Linked DNA regions of Homo sapiens. The protein of the gene in region 3 interacts with the protein of the main gene of each other region in a pairwise test. Each region holds a gene or a part of one and is shown on either strand. Other genes may lie near its edges.

The links.
Region 1: the proteins of SLC15A2 (region 3) and PLSCR4 interact in binary tests that used the Homo sapiens proteins (3 or more experiments, as listed by UniProt).
Region 2: the proteins of SLC15A2 (region 3) and AQP1 interact in binary tests that used the Homo sapiens proteins (3 or more experiments, as listed by UniProt).

The regions. Positions count from the first base shown.
Region 1 is NC_000003.12:146,198,534-146,206,653, forward strand, and holds part of PLSCR4 (phospholipid scramblase 4), read right to left. Parts: coding exon 7,993-8,120; intron 2,545-7,992; coding exon 2,502-2,544; intron 1,507-2,501; coding exon 1,280-1,506; intron 1-1,279. UniProt on the Homo sapiens protein: Catalyzes metal ion-induced ATP-independent rapid bidirectional and non-specific movement of phospholipids (lipid scrambling or lipid flip-flop) between the inner and outer leaflet of the plasma membrane and participates in the redistribution of phospholipids between membrane leaflets.
Region 2 is NC_000007.14:30,914,305-30,922,424, reverse strand, and holds part of AQP1 (aquaporin-1), read right to left. Parts: intron 360-8,120; coding exon 195-359; intron 1-194. UniProt on the Homo sapiens protein: Forms a water channel that facilitates the transport of water across cell membranes, playing a crucial role in water homeostasis in various tissues.
Region 3 is NC_000003.12:121,938,885-121,945,292, reverse strand, and holds the end of SLC15A2 (solute carrier family 15 member 2), read right to left. Parts: intron 5,945-6,408; coding exon 5,798-5,944; intron 4,910-5,797; coding exon 4,805-4,909; intron 4,463-4,804; coding exon 4,286-4,462; 3' UTR 1,105-4,285; downstream 1-1,104. UniProt on the Homo sapiens protein: Proton-coupled amino-acid transporter that transports oligopeptides of 2 to 4 amino acids with a preference for dipeptides. Transports neutral and anionic dipeptides with a proton to peptide stoichiometry of 2:1 or 3:1.

The DNA of each region.
Region 1 (8,120 bases), about 24 Mb from region 3:
GGGACCACAGACACACATCACCAGGCCTGGCTAATTTTTTTATTTTTTATTTTTGTAGAGATGGGGTTTTACCATGTTGCCCAGGCTGATCTCAAACTCCTGGCCTCAAGTGATCCTCCCACCTCAGCCTCTCAAAGTGTTGGAATTACAGGTGTAAACCATCCTGCCCAGCTGTAATTTTGATTTGCTTTCCTTTATTCTGGCTTCCTATAATTTCAGAAGGCTGTATCTATAGGCTTTGATTAAAAAAAAATCTAACTCATAAATATGAAGATAAATGCCTACTATATCCAAAAGGATCAAGGATAATAGGTATTCACTTCACATATAAGGCTGTTATCACAAAGACAATAATAACAAAGGAGTAAGATTTCTGAAAAGAGAAAATATTCATTGAGTACTATACTATTTGCTAGGAACTGTGCAGAAGAATTGACTTAATCCCTAAAATGATCATCCTATCCGATAGGTACTATTAATATTTCCATTTTACAGGTAAATAAGGCCTGGAGACGGTTGTAAAAAATTAATATTTAGTAAAGGATGTTATTTAACAGATCATTTAAGTATTTCAGTAATCCTATGATGTATTATACTACCCAGTTTATGTATAAGAACACTAAGGCTCAAACAGGTTAATTAAATTTTACAGATTTAAGTAGGTGACATATCTAGAATTCAGACTCTGTTTGGTTTCTCTCCAAAACCGCTTCTCTTTTCCCTACAGAAAATAACTTGCTTAGAAATGCAAGATAATGAGTAACCACACTGTAACTCAGCACATCTGTATTCTAGTTCCAGCCCTGTCCTTAGCCAAATGTAACACCTCAGCCATTTAGTAATTTTGAGCCACTCTTTATCTGTGGCAAGGTATGCGTTGTGATGGGTACTCTAAACATATTTAAGTCCCTTCCAATTCTAAAAGCATATGTTTATCTTTAGCATTGCTTTATCTAGTGATAGGTACGTACATTTAGATAAATGTGGTAGGTAAATTTCTAATTAAGTAGATGCAACTGATGGAATCATAATTATTGACTACACATATGTCAATTGTGCTTGACCCACTTATTTAAGCACTAAAAAGTAGTAACCAAAAAGAAAAAATCCTCTATGATTTTCCTTAGGCGAGACAATTTGGTTTCCTCCCTCCCCACTATCTTCTTCCATTCTGGCTGGCAGGGCCAGGGAATATCCTCCCTATGTAGTGGAAGGAGCACACTATGCCATGAAGAGTTAGATCAGAAGCAAGCTGTGGATCAGACTTCCATTCTCTGACCTCTTGTCTGGCAGAGGGGCAACAGAAGCAACAGCAGGTGCATCTGAAGGGTCTCTGCATTGTCATGATTTCTCGGCCCATACAATCAGTGACCCGGAGGACGAAGGGCCTTAGTGTCCGATAGGCATTCCTGGTAAAGTCATCTGTGTCTTCGGTTACAATGTAAACCATCTGGTCTGAGTTGTTTTTAATATCATATCTATTATTAGTTTCAAAACATGTCATCACTAAAAAATAAAATGAGTAAGTCTATATTAGAAACATTTAAAATGGGCCTCAGAAAGTCCTTGTTTAGTATTTCTTAAGGGCTTAAAGCAACATAGCTTTTTTAAAGTTTCAGGTGAAATATGTAGAATTGATTAGAGTACCCCAAAAATCATATTATCTAAAAGTATTTAAGCAATTGTGAAAATTTAAAACATTTCTTTTAAGAAGTTCAGTGTAAACATTAAAAAAATTTTACATAAAAGAAAAGATTGAAACAACCCTTTTGTTTCAATTCCTGGAGTATCTGAATTCAGAAAACTTTAATTATAAAACCATTTAAAAAAATTATACATTTGACCATTAATTAATCAGTTCACGAAACATGCTTGGAGGAGTAGGGTCATTACTAATTACAAACAAGAGAACAAACCAAGAAAAGTCAAAGGCCCTATGTGGTGGCCAAATGAATGTGCACAGCTGGTTTAGTGAGGGTCAGTACTCTTGTAGGATGAACTGAGAACAGGCATCATTTTGACTGAGATCTTTTCTTCTTACTTCCAAAGCGAGGGCACTGCACTACGATTTGGCAGATTTGGATTCTATTTCCAGCTCTGCCACTGATTAGCTGACTGTGGTTTAAATGCTATTTCCTGATCTGGAGGTGATTAGCTGACTGTGGTGTCCCTGGCTAACTCATTTAGTCTCTTGGCTCCTTTTTTTACTCATCTTTGAAAGGTAAATGTGGAGTAGGAACAATGGGTAAAGTGTAGGGCTATTGACCAGATAAAATGTAAGCCCTTTTCAAATCTAAGAGCTTATGATTATATGATGTATAGAAGGATAAAATTATACAAAATAATTCACTTTATTACTTTCTTGAAGATAGGGTAATAGAGCAGTTTTTTTTTCTTTGAGCCACTAAAACATGATCAATATAAAGAAGGAACTAGATATTGGATAATGCAAATTTCCATCTGATTAAAATACTGCTGAGCACTACAAAAATTATACATACTTTCCAGAGGCTCAAAATGCTGAAGAACATGTATGTTGTCCAACTGTTGGGATAAAACAAAGCAATCAGAAGACAGAAATAACAGAACTAAAATACCACTGTAAAATAAACTGATGAAATAGATATTAAAATGCATCAATTGATACCAAAATATATTTTTGAAAGTCAATAGAATCAAAAAAATTTTACCAACTGAAATTAGCTTATCTGCATCTGATCGGATGGATATTAGCAGAGTTGTCCATATTAGAAAAACACTTTCTTTCAGTACCACTTTAAAAAAGTTGTCTGCTATATCAGAAAAACAAAACATCTACTTGCTGTAGTAATCACATCAGAAGAAGCTGTGCTTATAGATTGTTCCTAGATAAGTCCCTACTCACTGGTCTCTCTACATGTCATCCATAGCCTGTAGTTGTTTAGTTAAGTTCAGAACGATTAACACGGACCAGCCATAGAAAAGGGAAGTCTCTCAGTGGCTTAAGGAGAACAAACAAGCCAGGGTGAACCTCACATGGAGTGTCCCCATTTTATATTATTTTACAGGTACCTCCAGCAGAGGTTTATAAACTGACTTGCATTCACTTGATCTACAAAGGCCAGGGTCTTCCCCAAGTGCACACTTTAATAAGGGAAGGGTCTATTACACTAGGAAGCATGTGAACAGGATTAGGGGAAGAGAAAGGAAACATTGTTAGATGGCAACCCATGAAAAGGACGGCTGGGTATATACCATTAGAGAAATTTCTATCTTAGGAATCATTCTAAAGATGAGCAGTTTGATGGGCACATTATCTGTTACATGTGAGAACATTCTAGCAGAAGAAAAGAAACCTTCTTGAGGACACACTGATTATATTTGTATAATTTTACATCATTTAGACCATTAGACCATTCCTAATCCCTGAGCCCAGAACACTGCCTGAAGTGCCATATTTCACCAAACATTGGTTAAGTACATTAATTAATGAAGAATATATGAATGCAGTAATACATGAAATTAAAATAATGTACCTAAACACGAATGTTTTATGGTGTGATTAATTACAGGAGGGTACAAAGGGCACAATCTATGCTTAATTAAAACCTTTTTCTTACATAAAAACACAATGACATAAGGAGACATAAATATGCCTCATAAAATACCAAAAGTGACTACTAAAATGGTTTATAGTCCATTTTAGAAAAGTAGGGTATTAAAATCTAGAAGTGAAAAGTAAAAATATAAACTACAGGCATACTCTGAAGATACTACAAGTTTGGTTCCAGACCAAGGCAATAAAGCAATTATTGTAAGAAAGTGAGTGACATGAATGTTTTATTTTCTTATTGAATCTAAAATTATGTTTACACTATAATGTAGTCTACAGTGTGTGTAAGAGTATTAATCTAAAAGAAGTATATATCTTAATTTTAAAAAACTTTATTGCTAAAAACTGCTAACAATCATCTGAGACTTCAGCTAGTCACAATCCTCTTGCTGGTAGAGGGTCTTGTCTCTATGTTAATGATTGCTAAATGGTCAGGGTGGTGATTGCTGAAGCCCAGGTTGGCGGCAGCAATTTCTTAACAAAAGATAATGAAGTTTGCCATATCAATTGACTGACTCTTCTCTGCATGAAAGATTTCCTTGTAGCACATGATGTTCTTTTTAGTACTTTACCACAGTAGAACTTCCTTCAAAATTGGAGTCAATCCACCTAAAAACTGCCACTGCTTTATCAATTATATTTGTGTAGTATTCTAAAACCTTTGTCATTTCAACAATGTTCACAGAATTCTCACCAGGAGTAAATTTCATCTCAAGGAAGCACTTTCTTTGCTTATACATAAGAAGCAAGTGCTCATCTGTTAAAGTTGTATCATGAGTTACAGTAATTCAGTCACATCTGCAGGTTCCACTTCAAATTCTAGTTCTCTTGCTGTTTCCATCATATCTGAAATTACTTCCTCCACTGAAATCTTGAACCCTTCAAAATCATCATAAAAGTGGCAATCAGCTTCTCCCAAACACCTGTTAATGCTGATATTTTGACCTCTTCCCATGAATCATGAATGTCCTTATTGGCATCTAGAATGGTGAATCCTTTCCACATGGTTTTCAATTTATTTTGCCCAGATCTGTCTGAGAAATGACACCATCTATGGCAACTATAGCCTAACGAAATTCATTTTTTTAACAATAAGACTTGTAAATTGAAATTATACTTTGACCCATGGGCTGCAGAATGGATGTTGTGTTAGCAGGCATTAAAACAACATTAATCTCCTTATACGTCTCCATCAGAGCTCTTGGGTGACCAGATGTGTTGTCAGTGAGTAGTAATGTTTTGCAAGAGACCCTAACAGGGAAGTCAGTCTGTCCTTTGAAGTTTTCACGTCAGGCGTTGACTTCTACTTTTTAGCTATGAAAGTCCTAGAAGGCATCTTCTTCCAACAGAAGGCTGTTGCATCTATATTCAAAATCTGTTGTTTAGCAGAGTCACCTTCATCAATGATCTTGTTATAGTTAGGATCTTCTGAAAAACTTACTGCAGCTTCTACATCAGGACTTGCTGCTTCACCTTGCACTTCTATGTTACAAAAGTGCCTTTTTTCCCCCCTTAAGCCTTGTGAGCCAACCTCTGCCAGCTTCAAACTTTTTTTTTCTGTAGCTTCCTCACCTTTCTCAGCCTACATAGAATTTAGGAGAGATAGGGCTTTGCTCTGAATTATGCTTTGGCTTAAGGAAATGTTGTGACTGGTTTGATCTTCTTTCTAGACCACTAAAACTTTCTCCATATCAGCAATTAGGCTCTTTTACTTTTCACCATTCATATGTTCATTGGAGTAATATCACTTTCAATTTCCTTCAAGAACTTTTCCTTTGCATTCACAGCTTGGCTAACTGGTGCTAGAAGACTAGCTTTTGGCCTATCTCAACTTTCAACATGCCTTCCTCATTAAGCTAAATCATTTCCAGCTTTCTTATTTACAGTGAGAGATGTGCAATTGTTTCTTTCACTTGAACACTCAGAGGCCATCACAGGATTATTAACTGGCCTAATTTCAATATTATTGTGTCCCTTCCTGGAACTCAATAATATGTGTCTGTTAAGGGGTAGTTCTTTGACAAATTGGTAAAGTCACTGGTAAAGCCAAGACTCTGAAAATAATATAATCGTGCTAATTTGGATGTTTTAGGATTCTTGGGAACCTTGATAAAGATTCATGTAATCTTCATGTGAGATCTCAAAAAGACTAGGGTAGATAGAGGAAAAAGATTGGCTCTATGTCTTGCATTCACACATAAGAAGGTATTTAAGCTAATAACAGCCACATAGCTTTCATCCATTGGGACGGCCCTTTATGTCAAAAATATTAGGCACATTGTGACCCTTATCTCATTAAAAATTCTCCTAACAATCTGGTAAGGTAGGTATTGATAATACTATTTTATAGATGATAAAATTCAAGCAGCAAGAGGTTAGAAATTTTATCAAAGTTTTTGAGTTACTAGAGAGTAGGACAGAATTAAAAAACCAGGTTTGCCTGGGTCCAAACCTGTGTTTTGTTTATTTTTTCACTTATTTCTTTAACTCTAAATATTCCTAAAAGGGAAAACTCATAAAATACGTTAAATTAACCTCTGTCAGAATCATAAAAGAAATTAAGAAACAAGTTTTTAATATTTAAATAAACAAAGCTATACAATTTGAAAAGAGAATTGACTGTAGAAGATGTTAGATTCCCAAGAACAACTTCTGTATTTATCACCAAGTATAGAAATGAGACTTTCTAAACTTGATAAGCTACAAACATTTTATTATCTTCTGAAATAATGTAGATGTTTACTCTAGCACTTCACCTGAATGAGTTTTGCATTTTGTCAAAATTTTGTCCAAATAATAATTTAGGATAAATTTTGGCTTTTGTAAAATCCAAATTTTCCTGATCCAACTGTATTGACTTCTATACACCAATGTTATAATATTATACAAATAGTTTTCAGCACACAAGATTATCAGGGTCCCTGTCAATATACAGAATTGAAAAGAGAAATGACAGAACTCGAGGAAATACTTGGCTGTTGACCTGGGGAGGTAAGTATTAAATTGGGAAGTTTCTTCTTTATAATGTATTTCAGCACTTCCTTTTTCTATAAACAACAACAAAAAAGATTCAGAAGGTTCTATGGAATCTCCAATAAAGTAGTCTCCCTCTTATCCTCAGGGGATACTTTCCAAGCCCTCAGTGGATACCTGAAACCACAGATTGTACCAAATCCTGTATATACTATGCACAAATTTTTCTTTTCTTCTTTACAATTTCATGGACATATTAATTTTACTATAGATCTTAGTAACCTTAGCATAGGAATTTTTTTATTATTAAGTAAAAAACCTTCACCTTTACATGGAAAGGAAGACCTTATGGCCTCTCTTTGGTCTTTCCTTGACATATCCAAATTCCCAGCATTACTACTCTTGTGCTTTGGAGACATAATTAAGTAAAATAAGTTACTTCAATGCAAGCACTGTGATACTGTAAGTCAATCTGATAACCAAGATGTGACTCTGGGTCTGTATACTATGGATAACATCTACAGCGTGGATACACTGGACAAAGGAATGATATATGTGCCAGGCAGAACACAGCAGGACTGTGCAAGATTTCATCATGCTACTCAGAATAAATTTAAAATTTATGAATGGTTTATTTCTAGAATTTTCCATTTAATATTTTTGGAACCTGGTTGACCATTGGTAACTGAAACCGCAGGAATCAACGCCACAAATAAAAGGCGTCTACTCTGCCAGCTTTATCTTATTTTCATTAAGCAGGTTTTTTAGTTTCAGACATGGGTTTTTAAACAAAACTATTTGTGCACAAACTTCCCATATTACCCCAGTTTTTGATCTGCATGTCCTGGTGGCAGCAGAATATCTACATAGATGTTAATTAGGGAGTTATTGTGTTGTATGAAGGGGGTCTCTGGAACTTGGCCTGAAGCAATATTCTTTGTAGGGTCCATTATTTTTATTTATATTGTTTGTTTTTGGGGGTGACAAGAGTAGCTAATGAAAATGATGGGTGGTGGTAAAAAGCAATGGGCTAAGGCACTCAGTAATTTACCCACTGTATTGTGTTTTGTTCTCTTTTGTGCTTTTTTTGATGTTAACTGTTTACTTCTAAGCAAATAACACAACTATCCTCTATGATAGTTTTTCTATTTCCATTTGTACAATTCTTTCAAGAAAACATCTTGAATGCCTTGAAGTTCAACATAAATCCTTATGAAAAACATACTCATCCCACTATAAACATCCTTGTACTTGCTGTTTCCCCTTCATATTTCTGAAACTGGTATCACTGTTCTTATAGTTTCACAAATGGCATCTGTCATCACTGACCCATCTCCTTTATTCACTCTGGTCTGCTTTTTTTCTCTCTTTGTTGGATCCCTATGGTCACATTTCATAAGAAAATAATTTGTATTTTCATGGAGTACCTGAACTAAGTATTCCAGACCAGGAGGGCAGTTTGCCATAGGAGTTGGCCCTGGCATCCATGTTATTGGAACAGACTGATTTGGCATAGGATATTTGCCAGGCTGATACCGGACAGGATGGATACCAC
Region 2 (8,120 bases), on a different chromosome or scaffold from region 3:
CCCCAAGCTGGGCAGGAGGTCCCTGTGCTCCTCTCCAGGGCAGGACCCTGCCCCCAGCCCCCAGCGCTGACCCGCCATCCTCCACCCAATGGCAAGAGCCCTGTCGGGAGTCCCACTGGCTGCCCATGGCAGGGCACCCCACCAGCCCCCGCCCTCCCTTCCCCCACCTCCATCTGGGAGGGCCCCTGACTCACAGCCAGGAGGTGTCCAAGGGCTACAGAGAGGCCGATGGCAAGGGGGGCTGAGCCACCAAGGTCACGGCGCCTCCGGTCGGTAGTAGCCAGCACGCATAGCACCAGCTGGAGGGTCCCGATGATCTCGATGCCCAGGCCCTGGCCCGAGTTCACACCATCAGCCAGCTGCAGGGGAGAGAGGTGGTGAGGACTGGTGAGGAGGGTAGGCAGGGACTGTGTCCCAGGACCCCAAGGATACCCAGGCCTCCCAGGCCCAGGCATGAAGGGCGGACCCTCAGATGGGCCTTCAGAGCCCATCACAGGGTCCCAGGCAAGCCTACACGGCAGGTAGTGGAAATCAGGCCTTGAACCCACCCCCTGTGTTAATGAAACTCCAGCCCAGCCCCTAATACCTGCCTAGACCCAGGCCCCACTCTGCCTAGAAGCTGGAGAGGCCTGGGGTGAGCTGGGGCCTTTGCATCCAGCTGCATCCAGGCCAGGGTATTCTGGGGTACCAAGACCAGAGGCAAGGGGCGAGCCCCAGGCATGAAGGTGATGGTCAGGAGCACTCCTAGGAGAAGAGATGCAAAAAGGTGGGAAGGCCCAGCAGGGGACACGGCTTCATACCCAAAAGTCCAGAACATTCCACCCCATGCCCGACTGCATCTAAATTCCAGGGCTGAGGAGGCCTTCGGTGAGGTCCTGGCTCCCTCCACCCCTCTTTCTCCTCTGTGCCTGCCTCCCTATTGTCTCCACCCTCTCTCTCTCCTTCTCCACCCCGTCTCTTTCCTTGGTCCAAGGCCTGTCTCCCATTGCTTCTGGCCCTGCCCTCCCTGTCTCTCCTTCTCTCTTCTTCCTCCCCACTGCTGGCCTCAGCCTCACCCTCCCTCTGCCTGGCCAGATAGGCCCCGCCACCACCGTCTGGCTGCCACTTACTCCTGGGCCACTTTTAGAAACATGACTCATGGAAAGAGAAGGGAATGGAAGCTGCTGTGAGGTCATGAAGGCCCTCCCCATGCAGCTGCCCCCGGAGGACCCCTCCCCAGGAAGCCCCAGCACCTTCCACTATGCTTTGTGGCCGTCCCAGGGGCTAAGTGCACTCACACAGGGGAGATGGACCACATCAGCAAAGGCTCACTTGCAAAGATGCCCACTTGAGGCCACTTAGGCTGCCTTCTCCCAGGCAGGGCTGGTGCACCCAAACACTTCCCAGCTGGGAGACAAACTACCCAGCTCCCATCCTCAGGATATGGGAGTGTCTCCAAGGCCATAGAGAATTTTGCAAAATCCAAGGTAGGGGGGCACACCTTGGAGGTTTTCCCAGCCCCACCCTGAGGCCATCCTACAAGAACAATTCTCTTCCCGCCTTTGTCTGCAGCCCTGGGTTACAGGGAATGACTCACATCCCCTCCCCTGCCTTGCAGCCCCAGCTTTGGGCCTTTCCTGGCGGACCCCAGGGCTACATCCCTTAGGTCCGCCAGCCCTCTGGCCAATGCCCAGTTCCCTTTCTGTCCCAAGGTTGGGCCAAAGAGGCAGAAGCCCTGTGTTCAGGTTCTGACTCTTCTACTTTCTGGCACCATGAGCATGGCCTATTCCCTCTGGTCTTCAGTCTTCCCATCTGCAAAATGGATCTCATTGTCCGTGCCTGCTCTCCAGAGCAGCTGGGAGGTTCAAAGGCCAAAGGGGCCGTCTCAGGGCTTTTGGAAAGAGTTGTCGACGCAGGAGGGATGGGGCAGTGGTAGTGACTCTTGTTTTGGTTCTTCTCATTGTGTGTGCAGGATCTGGGGACAGGCAGAAGGAGTGACGGCGGGTGGAGCTGCTGGCAGAAGCCTGCCCAGAGTTAGGACAGGCTGAATGGGGTTGAGGCTGGTGAGGCCAGCCCGGCTAGTCCTGATGCCCACCCACACTTGCACCTGTGAGGCCCCTGTCCCTCTGTATCTGAGCCCTCAGGAAGCTCGTGGCTCCTTCTATTCCTCTCTCTTCTGCTCTCCAGGGTTGGCCTAATTGCTAGCTGGCAGAAGTCCTGAAACCAGCCCTTCCCCGATGATTAATGGAGTCATCGCTGTAAGTGGCTCCCGCCTTGGAGAACCCTCCCAGCCCCATCCCTCACAGATGTGACCAGAAAGAGCTCATCTCCTCTGGTTCTTAACCAGGTGCGAGAGCCCCAGCCCCTACCCAAAGACAACATGCTTTTCATGCAAAGTGGGCAGAGCAGAGGGTGATAGTTCCAGGCCCTGTACTCTGAGTCCTTGGGAAGGGGAGGGGTCAGCCACCTGCCCTGGGAATTCTGGAATGTGCCTTCGTGACTGCTGAGAACCACATGGGCTGACAGCCTTCCTCTCCAATACCCACTACCACTACCACCAGGAAGCCTCCCCTGATAGCTTCAACATCTACTGACAACCTTCCTTCAACTATCTAATACACTTGCATTATTTACATCTGGAAACACTTGATAATTCAGAATTGGAAGGGGCACTCAAAGGCCTGTTGAAACTCAATGTCCAGGAAAGAGCAGGTAAAATACTTCAAATGTACGTTACTGTTTACAACCCATTAAATTTGAAAACTTGCTTAAACAAGGACAGTTCCCATTGTAGTCACTTGTTTTATATATATGTACATATATATTTGCACATCCCCAGGTAGTTTTGCCTGGCCCAGGTCTTATTAAGGCAAAAAAAAAAAAAAAAAAGTAAGAATCAGAACAATTCTCAATTCTCAATTCTCAATTGTCTTCCCGCTTTTGTCTGCAGCCCTGGGTTTTGTGAATGCAAGTATTACCGAAAGAATAATCCACACATTTCTTCTGAAGTGTCAGAAAGATACAAGCTCTCCATTTTGTGCTAAGCCCTTGTAAGCCCACTACTCAAGGCCCAGTTCAGACCCCACCAGCTCCTAGAAGCCTTCCCAGATCCCTGGCTGGAATTAACTTCTGCTCCCACCCACCATGCCCTCACTGAATTCTCTGTGCATCTTGTAGGAAATCAATCTTCCTGCGGCCTATGTGGGTGCATCTCCTCCTGGCCTGGGAGCTCGGTGAAGACAGAGTGGGGGACCTCTGCCATTTCTCTGCCCACGCCTCTGAGGGGAGGCTTACTGTGTGCTGATAGAAGTGGCAGAGAATGCTAATTTTCTAGAACTCCCACCCTTGCTAGGGGCAGCCTGGCTCCAGAGATGCTCTCCGGACCCAGGGCGGTCTTCTTCACTTTCTAGCTGGGAAACAATGGGCCAATCATTAGCCTCTGGGAGCCCTAGAGGGCAGCCTGTGCGATGGCTCAGTGAGATGATGACGCAGAGGCTGAGGCCCAGGGAGGATGCAGCAAAGCCAGGATCCTTGCCCCATAGTCTGTGCCACCCTACACTCACAGGTCAATGGGCTGGCCACTCCTAGGCCCAGTCAAGGGACCTGGCTATTCCCAGCTTGGACTTGGGAGCTGGCAGAAGGTGGTTCTGTGGCTGCCAGTGTGTCCTGGCTCTAGGGCAGCCCAGGGATGATCTCTCCAGGCAATGTGCTCTAAGCACTCCCTGCTACCCATAGACAGGCCAACCAGGGTGGCTTCCAAGGCATGGGGCCCCTGACTTGGCCTGGGCACCCTGGTGCCCTGGCCTTGGGGAAGAGCAGGCTCCAGAGCCAGGCCTGACTGAGGCTCTGAGCTTTCGTTCTCAAGGGATAGGAGACATCGAGGCCTGCCCTGCCCACCCCAGTGCCTCCAAGACTCAGCACTGGGCAGTGAGGGGACCTATGTGGGCTCCAGAGTGTCACTCCTCCATGGGTGTTCACACGTGGACATGGGGGGATTCCTGGTTTTGTGTGCCTCTGTGTGTCTTTGTAGATAAGTGTCTGCTGTGTCTGTGATGACCACATGTGTCCAGGGCTGACTCCCTCTTTCTCTTTTTTGTTAGATTGTAAGTGGTTTATTACACAATAATTACATTTTAAAAATCTATAAAAGAACTGGCCAGGCGCGGTGGCTCACGCCTGTAATCCCAGCACTCTGAGAAGCCAAGGCGGGTGGATCACAAGGTCAGGAGATCGAGACCATCCTGGCTAACACGGTTAAACCCCGTCTCTACTAAAAATACAAAAACAAAATTAGCCGGGTGTGGTGGCCTGTGGTCCCAGCTACTCGGGAGGCTGAGGTGGGAGAATGGCATAAACCCGGGAGGCAGAACTTGCAGTGAGCCGAGATGGTGCCACTGCACTCCAGCCTGGGCGACAGAGTGAGACTCCGTCTCAAAAAAAAAAATAAAAATCTATAAAGGAACTGCAAAAATCCCCCACTTGTATGCACCAAACAACATAGCCTAAAAATAAATGAGGGGAAAATTGACAAAATTACAAGGAGGACTGGATCACCCTACCACCAGAGTGAAAAATGTTAACAATCTTCTATTAGAAATGTACAGAATAAATGAAGCAGCCGAAAACTACCAATAACATGATCAGGGAGGGTTTGAACCCCATAATTAACAAGCTTGACTTCAGAAAAATATGAAAACCCTGTACCCCTGAATTAGAGAATGCACACTCTTTTTCATCAACTGATGAGGTACTGACCAAGTGCCTCGGCCTCCCTGGGAACAGCTATATCATACAGGCATCCCTGCAGGACATGAGGTCCTGGAGGCTGTGCTGTGTGTTTGCACTGGTATGTCTGATGGCACTTCTGGGTGCCTCACTGTCTCCCTGTGTCACACACCCACATAGCTGCCACTACCAGCTAGAGAGGGAAGAGAAGAGAAAAAAATGAGCCCCCCATGTGAGAAAGCAGCAGGTCTCAACAAGGCCTTTATTTGCTCCCAGAAGCCATTTCATCTTCCTGACAAGAAACAATACACAAAGCAATGGCTTCCTCCCTCCCTCCCTCCTTCTTTTCCTAACTCCAGGGCAGGGAGAGGAAAAGGCTCCATTGAGGAATCCCCGCCCAACCCTCCTTGGGTCCCAGAGTCTGAGTGGGACCACCCAGTCTTGAGAATGTGCTTTGTGTACCATGTGTGTGTGTCCTCCACGTAAGAGCACATGTGTGTGCATGTTTGTGTTTGTGCCATGTGTGTACACTTTGGAGCAGCAGGAATAATCAAGGGCTAGGAGGCAGTGCCACCTTGACAAGTCTCCACGCCTCTGTGGGCTTCAGTTTCCCCATCAGTAAAATGGAGGCCTTGGCCCAGATTCGAGCCCCCGCAGTCTCCAAAAGTGCCTCCTGCCTCACATCGGGGTGGTCACTCTCCAGCCCCAGATCCAGAAACCTAAGCACAGGATCCCCCGCAGGCCATCAGAATTGCTGATCTCAGCATGACACAAAGCCTATGCTGCAGAACCTGTCACCCACCCCACTGGACCCCCGCATAGACTAGCACCCCCAAAGCAGCCTCCTCACCAGAAAGCATCTACTTGCACACCCCTAATGGCAGGGAGCTTATTGACTTAGAGACAGCCCCTTCTTCGTGTCAACAACAATATCAACAACAACCTTCTTTACACTGAGTAGAAATCTGCCTTTCAAGGGGCCCTGACAGCGAGATTGCAGGCACTGAAAGGAGCTGCTGGAAGGGCCGGGGGCATTTTCCGGCCTTTCCGGATATCTTTTAAGTTGGAGATTTCAGCCTCAGAGTCTGCCCACCCCACAGAACTGTAGCTCCTGGCTGAGTGAAGACAGCCCCTCATGATCCCCCTGGGCACCACTCCATGTGGGCAAGGAGCCCCTCTCATCCCCATGGGGAAGCCCTGACTGAGGGGATCCTGGCCACTTGCAGGGCCTCGCGGACAGCATTTTCCTGCCTTCACCTCCCGGTGTGAGGGCTCAGATCCCAGCCACTCAGGAGACTCCAGACTCATTGGTGCTTCCAGAAGGTAAGGGCCATGGCCCCTGCTGGGTGGGGGCCCTAGACTAAGTGGGGGTACCATCTGGAATTGGCTTGCAGTGAGCTAATGGCCACTTCATGCTGCTAGAAGGTTGCCTGGGGTGGAGAAGGGAAGGCAAGGTGTGACAGGAGGCTGTGGCCTGGGAGTGGTGAGCAGGGGGTGAGCCCCTCAGACAGGTATCCCAGGAGGCCGTGTCCCCTCTCAAAGCATGGCCCCTTCAGAGTTCCCAGGGCAAATCCCAGTCAGGGCCAAGCATCAGGGTGGGCAACACTGGGACCGGCTGGGCTGTTCTGAGGTCCCTAAAGGGGAAGCAGCGTCAGGATTTTCCATGGTGAGGGAAGTCTCCACCACAAAGCTCCCCATCTCTGTGCCCTCCCCCTCATCTGGGGCTGGCGGAAACAGTAATTATATGTCCCAGATGTGGCATCACCACCCAGCCCCCAGCCCCTCCCTGGGCAGGACGGGCTGGGCAGGGACATGGAAACTCTGCCTTCCTTTCCCCATCCCTCCCCTGAGCTCTGGAGGAGGCAGCAGCACCCCCGGGAGAACTGGTGGCATGAAGAGGCCTCTCACTCTATGACTGGGGAAACTGAAGCCCAGAAAAACGGGATAAAGGGGAGAACTTAGGGCTTCAGTCAGGCCCCTGATGCTGCAGGTAGAAACACTTCTTGAGCAGTCAGGCCTGGAATTAGCAGGGCTGGGAGAAGACCCCGAAGAGGGTAGCTTTGCCCTCTGCCTGAGCCCAGCGGGCTGAAATCACAGGCTCTGGGAATCCAGACCCCTTCCCCCGGATGCAGCCCCTGGCCCGAATCCTGAGCCCTCACCACCCTCCTCCCATGCACCCCCAGCCTGACCATACCCAACAACTCCCGTACCACGGCCCTCACCTCCTCCTAGCCTGTGCTTGCTCACACAGTCCCTCTGCCCCTTCCCTCTGCAGTGTCTCCACATTCAGGCTCCTACGAAACCTCCTCCCTGATGCCTTCCTGGCCCTCCCACCCCTTAAGTTCAAAAGTTCCCGGGCCCGCCCTGACACCTCTTATCGCATCTGCCTCCTGCTTCATATCACAGGCAGCTGGGCACTGGCTTATCTTGACCTAGGGCTGTGGGCTTCTCTCGGGAGGGAGCCGGGCTAACCCAGCCCTGCATTGAGCACCCAGCAGTCCCTGGTCATGCTTGCAGGGAGCCGGCTGAGCAGACCAGACAGCAGAAGAATGAAAAAAGCCAGCAAATGCCAGGAATCCTGAGTCCACCAGCATCTCCTACTTCTCAGAGCCCAGCCACACCCTGCTATGTCCCTATCTCATAGACAGGAACTAGGGCCACACAGGCCAGTCTGTTGTGTGATGCCACATGGTGTTAGTGGCTGAGCTAGGACAGGGACAGGTGAGAGTGTCCACCCCAGCCTCAGAGCCTCTCACCCTTAGCCAAAATTGGTATTTGGCTCTTAGAACTAGCCGGGACCTTGCAGGCTGGACGGAGGCCCACGGTCTCTCTAGGGCATATCCTGAGCCCTGAGTCAGTCAGGAGAAAGTTGTCCCCAGCATGTCCCGAAGGGACACCCCCTGACTCACCCCAACCACTTCCTGCCACATCTTTCTCTGTTTTCCTTGGAAATCTCCATGCCAACCACTTGCCCCACCCAGGTTTTGACTGGGCTGGGGCTCAGGGCCAGAGAGGCTGCAGGAGCCTACCCCAGGTCATGAAAGAGAGTGTGTCACCTGCTGCCCAGACTGTTCCCTGCTCCTCTTGAGGCATCCAGGCCACCCCTGAGGCCCCTCCAGTTCCAGGGCCAGTGTCTGACGGGAGCCCTTAGAGGGGTACCTTCTCTATTTCTAGGCCCAGAGTTGAGGTCCTGAACCCCACCCTTCCACTGTTGGGACAGGACAGCGCCTGAGCCCCCACCATCATGCTAAGCGCCCTTATGTTCAGCACTGCCCCTGCTGGGCTGCTCTTAGCCAGCTTTCGTGGGATGGGTGATAAGCTCAAAGCAATGAAGTGAGCTGGCTGTCTGGGTGTGGCTGTGAGGTCACAAGACCTGAGTTCCCTCTCGAGGGTCAGGGTCCGCAGCTCCAAAGAAG
Region 3 (6,408 bases):
ATCCCTAGCTTCCTTTGTATATTTTACCTCTTTGCCCCTTATTCTTGTCAAACTGTCCTTCTTGCTCATCATTTCTCTATACACATTCACTTCTTGGGAAATCTCTTCCAGTTTGATGGCTTTAAATACCATATATATGCTGATGATTCTCAAGTTTATGTTTCTAGCTCCAACCTCTTACCTGATCTTCAGACTCATATATGAAACTGCTAACTTAATGTCTCTAATTGGATATCCATTAGCATGGGTAGAAGCTCAACATGTCCAAAACAAAACTCATACCAGAAAACTTTTCTTATCCTAGTCTTTGCTATTTCTAGAAAATTGCATCCTGATTCATCCTTACTACTTAGGACCAAATCTAGGAGTGAGCTTTTTTCTTTCTTTCTTTTTCTTTTCTTTTTCCTTCCTTCCTTCCTTCCTTCCTTGCTTCCTTCCTTCCTTCCTTCCTTTCTCTCTCTCTCTCCACCCCCCACCGCTTCTTTCATTTTGAGACAGGGTCCTATTGTCCAGGCTGGAGTACAGTGGTGTGATCATAGCTCATTGCAGCTTTAAGCACCTGGGCTCAAGGGATTGTTCTGCCTCAGCCTCCTGAGAAGCTGGGGTTGCAGGTGCACACCACCACACCCGGCTAATTTTTTTATTTTTATTTCTTGTAGAGAGGGGGTCTCATTATGTTGCCTAGAGTGGTCTTGAACTCCCGGCTTCAAAGAATCTTCCTGCCTTATCCTTGCAAAGAATTGAGATTACAGGTGTAAGGCACCACATCTGGCGCATTTCTTTCTTTTAAATTGTGTATCCAAACTACACTCAAATCTTGTCAGTTCTAGCTTAAAGTTTAATTCCAAGTCAAACCATTTCTCTCCACCTCCACTACTATCACCTTGTCCAAGTCACTACCATCTATTGCCTGAACTATTGCAAAAGCCTCCTAACTTAACTCCTTACTTCTTTTCCTTCCTGACTATAGATAATTCTCCCCTTAGCAGCCAAAGTGATCTTAAATGATCACATTATGTCACTCTCATGTTCTAAACTTCCAATGGTTTAACATGTCACTTAGAATAACATCAAAATGTCTTACAATGGTGACAGTCATATATGTCCATATATAGTCAGAGTCTTTAATATGCAAATGTTAAGAAAAACTCTATATTGCAGTTTCAGTCAATGACAGACCAAATATGTGATGGTGGTCCCATTAGATTATAATACTGCATTTATACCTCTTTTCCAATTTGTGTGTCCACATTTTTTCAAATGAATTATGTCATTCACTTTTTAAAAAATTGATACATAACAGATATAGACATTTTCAGAGCACATATGAATAATTTGATACATCTATATAATGTGTAAAGTTTTTTGTACCGTTTCTATGTTTAGATATGTTTAAGTATAAAAATACCATTGTGTTACAATTGCCTACAGCATTTAATACAGTAACATGCTGTGCAGGTTTGTAGCCTAGGAGAAACAGTCTACACCATATAGCTGGAGAAACAGTCTATACCATATAACTTAGATGTGTAGTAGGCTATACCATAGGTTTGTGTAAGTACACTCTATGATGTTTGCATAATGACAAAATTGCCTAACAATGCATTCCTCAAATGTATCCCTGTCATTAAGTGATAAGTGCTAGAATGTAAGCCCACATTATGATGTAGTTTCCAAAAACAACTCATGTTACCTTACACTGCATTAACAGAAGTGCATTGTTTGAAGAAAGGCAGGTGCTAGTTCTTCCAGTCAGACTACTTTGGAATGTTATATTTGACTCCAGGCACTTCATATTAAGATATCTTAATATTAATTGCTGTATTTCAGATAAAGAATGTTTTTCAGAAGACAGAAAGTAGGATGGTAAAAGGACAAATTATGCCTGGTGAGGAACCATTACAGGAACCGAGAATCTTTACCTTGAATACTTGATGATTAGGGAAGAGCCATGAAAGTTCTCCCCAAATAGCTAAACATCTGCCACATGAAAAAGGGGGTATACATATTCTTTTCTTTTTTTTTTTAGATGAAGTCTCACTCTTGTCCCCCAGGCTAGAGTGTGATGGCGTGATCTCGGCTCATTGCAACCTCTGCCTCCCGGGTTCAAGCAATTCTTCTGCTTCAGCCTCCCGAGTAGCTGGGATTACAGGCACCTGCCATCACACCTGGCTAATTTTTGTACTTTTAGTAGAGACACGGTTTCACCATGTTGGCCAGGCTGGTCTCGAACTCCTGACCTCAGGTGATCCACCTGTCTCAGCCTCCCAAAGTGCTGGGATTACAGGCATGAGCCACTGTGCCTGGCCGGCTGTTATACTTATTCTTGTTAGCTACAGGGGAAAAAAAACAATGGTAGGAGGTTTCAGAGAGGAAGCTCAGCACTTACAAGGAAGAACTGCTCAACAGTTTTTTCCAAACCAATGTTCTGCAGCGTACATGTTAATTTAAACAAGGTATCTTGTGTCTTTACTGCAGGATATCTCAGAGTCTTTAATATGCAAATGTTAAGAAAAGGATACAGTATGCCACATTTCCCAAACTTATTTGTCCATAGACACTTCTATTTACAGAACTGTGTTAATGTCTCTTGAAACAATGGTCATAGAACAGTTTGGGTTAAAGCTATTTAAAAATGAACAGGCTGTCTTCTAAAGGAGTAGGGTCAGGTTCACATCAAGATATCTGGAAAAACTGGTTGGTCTGGCTGCCGCTCTTATATTTCTGAAATGCTTGTCATTAAAACTGAAGTATATAAAGTTTGGGCACTTAGAGCAATTTCTCTTACCTGTTAACAGTAACATTATCTGTTAATATTAACAGGTGCCTGTTAACATGAACATTGTTACGTATTAACATTAACAGTATGAGACCCAACACTGTTCTACATGAGAATAATGTTTTAAAACCAATGGAAATGAAGCTCTCTAGAACAGTGATTCTGAACTTTTTTCCTAGTAACACACTGCACAGTCGTGCCATTCCCGTGTCTGTCCTCTGATTCATTCATTGTGTATGAGGTAATGTTTCTCAATTTTTTTTCATGACCATACACATACACAAACAAAACCCTCATGCTCTACCATCCCTACTCCCACAAATTTTGATAGGAACCTCACATAGGACCATGCTCCTCTATTGACATTTCCATTTTAGAACCTCAAACCTAGAGCATTAATGTAACTTTTTTTGAATAAAAAGAAAATTTCTAGGCTTCAAGGCAGAAATGGTATTTAAAACTTATGGGAAAAGTAAATCAGGAAAACAACATCAAAAAGGAACTACTTTGATATTTTTGAGGCTAAATGGAAACATTAATAAAGGAAGTTGGACTTATAGAAACATTGTTGTTATTGAATATTTGCTGCAATAAGCAAGACAAGGTGTAATAATAAGAAAAAGCTGGATCAGCAAGGTTGACAAGACAAGGTTGCAAATTATAATTATTGTTTATACAACTGTTCACTGAAGGGCATAGACCAGCGCCATAGAGGCTAAGAAGAATGTACTCTGTAAAAGAATGACTGGCTCTTCAGGATTTCTACAACTTACACCTGTTCCTGTTCTCCAGAACAATGTTTACTAATGCTTACTATCTCTAATCTGGTTTCCATGATCTATCCATACTGAGAAAGGAGGGTTTGGATAAGTAAATAAAATACTATCATAATCAGAGAGATATAACTTCTCCTGTGTTTTAATAAAATGGCATTCTGCTTCCTACCATCTATATTGACAAATTTACTAAAGTCATATCAAACCTAGAGAGCTGACAAGCCAGGCCCTGGCTGGACCAGATCACATCATACATACCAATTCTTGAGGCCCCTGTGAATAGCATAATTACATTGCTTATAAAAAAAAAAACTTGAAATACCATTTCTTTGTTATTCTGCAATTTTGCCTCTAAATCAGCACCTCAAAAATTAGGGCCATCAGTCCTAAATGGCAGTTACCTATAAAGGAATTCCCATAACTTTGCATACCCACAGAGAATGATCTCCATTATACGTGTGTATTTTCATGGTCATTTGGAGACACCAGGCCAGCTCCAGCAACACTGCACAAGTTTTAATGAGTTCACTGATGGACGGGCAGACATAGAGTCTCTGGGGCCTTGTTTAAAGATGTACTGGAAAACCAGTCCTGGAACTTCTGTCATTGGAGAAAGGTGGAGGAGATCAGCTCTGATATGCTGCTATCTCTCTTGTCTAATCCAGTAGAAGAAAAAAAATGCTTCAAGACAGGGCCAGGAATTGGGGTCAGGACAGAATCTAGGGAGTCATCAGAGTTTTGTCTTCTTGGTCTCTAGTTTGATCATGTTCCCCTGGATGTGAGGAATGTGCTTATCTGCTGGACCCCGCATATCCTCTGTCTTTACAGGAACATAGTAGTAGCCCATGATGGAGAAGATCAGGCAGATCACCAGCAGGAGGCAGGAAAACAAAATGAATTCGGCCCACTGCAGGGGGAAATAAATATGAGAAGAATATGGAGAAACCTGAAACTAAAGAGATCTTTACAGGATGAGGAGTGGGGAGCAGACTGACCTGGGATCACCAGTTTAACCAGACTTTTGCTGGACAAAGACTGGGTTCACTGGCCTCTCCTCACATAGGTATATTGTAGTCATTATTGCCACTTACATATGTCTATTTTCCTGGTAAAGTCTGTATATCTAACCCATTTCATGTCACAGCACTGAATGGGGAATGTGGGAAGCAGAGAGATGGGGGAAAGGGAGAAGAGAAAGCTGGAGGAAAAACTTGAGTAGAAATGAATCCTGCTTCCCTCAGATCCATACCTGTACCAGGCCACTGAACTGTGCCACAACAAGCACGATGATATTCCCAACTGCAATTGTCAATAGCCAAGCTGCCTGGAGCACAGATTTCATGCTAGAGGGAGCCTGGGGATGACACAAGTTTGAAAGTAAACAAACCCCCTTCACTGCCCTCATGCCCCATGCATCCAGGAAACTTCTCCCACAAAAGCTTCCAAGTTAGAACTTCTCTTATTAAGTTCAGCTATCACATTGATTCAGAGGGTGTTAATAATGTAAACAGTAAGAATAAGATGAAGCTCCTAACTGAATATATTTAAACTCATTATGTCATATAATCTTCATTACAATCCTAAGAGATAAGTTCTATTCGTATTCTTATACATTTAAAAAATAGTATTACAGACTGGGCGCAGTAGCTCAAGCCTGTAATCCTAGCACTTTGGGAGGCCAAGGTGGGCAGATCATCCAAGGTCAGGAGTTAGAGATCAGCCTGGCCAACATGGTGAAACCCTGTCTCTACTAAAAATACAAAAATTAGCCAGGAATGGTGGTGTGCGCCTATAATCCCAGCTACTCAAGAGGCTGAGGCAGGAGAATCGCTTGAGCCGGGGAGGCAGATGGAGTCTCGCTCTGTCGCTCAGGCTGGAATGCAGTGAGCTGAGATCGCGCCACTGCACTCCAGCCTGGGCGACAGCATTACAGAGATAGTAATTTACTTGCTCAAGGTTACACAATAGGTCATGCAGCCAAAATTTGAACACGGGAAGTCTGACTCTGCAGCTCTTCATTTTAATCTTTAATCTCTTTCCTAGAACCCCAAAATCATAGACTCCCATGCTGTACTGTCATGACCTGGGGAGTTAAGATGTTCAGGTCATATATGTTCAGGGTCATAAATAAGGTACCCAAGGCCAAAAGAGATAACATACCTATTTAAGTCAGTGCTAGAATTAAAATTCATTGTCCTTCAAGCAATGCCTCAATTTCTACCTTCTATTTGCAAAAACTTACCTGAGAATAAGAAAACTCAAGACCTGTGACAGAGAACATGACCTCCCCAGCTGTAACCAGGGCATATTGTGGTAGCTGCCACGCAATGGACATTTTGTTGGCTGGAATGTCTTCAATCTTCCAGGCCTGAAGACCCTGATTGGTGTTCTTAGGGAAAGAGAAAATGGAAATGGACTTGTCAGTAGTCTCAAGTAAATATTTCTAACTACAGCATTCTACGATCTTATATCCATCCTTTTTGTATTTTCATTCTTCAGCCATTTTCAGGAAATTGAGCATTTCTACACAATTCCAGCTTTTCAAAACTTCTTTTCGTAATATTATGCTCACTCGCCTAGATTCAATCAGATATCATTATTGACAGAGACTTTAAATAAGAGAATATTTTGATATTGCAGTTTGGATTTCCACCGTTTTGCCCTATCAGGCATTTTGATCCTGGACAACATTTTAAACATAAAATGGCATCTGAATTACACAAACAAAATAAATTTTCAGATAATTCCCTTGGTAAGGGTGTGTTTATTCTTTGAGCAGAGATTATACTTCTCAGGCTATGCCCAGGCCTGCTATGGTTATCAGCCTGGTAGAAAAGAAGTAGTGGAAATTGA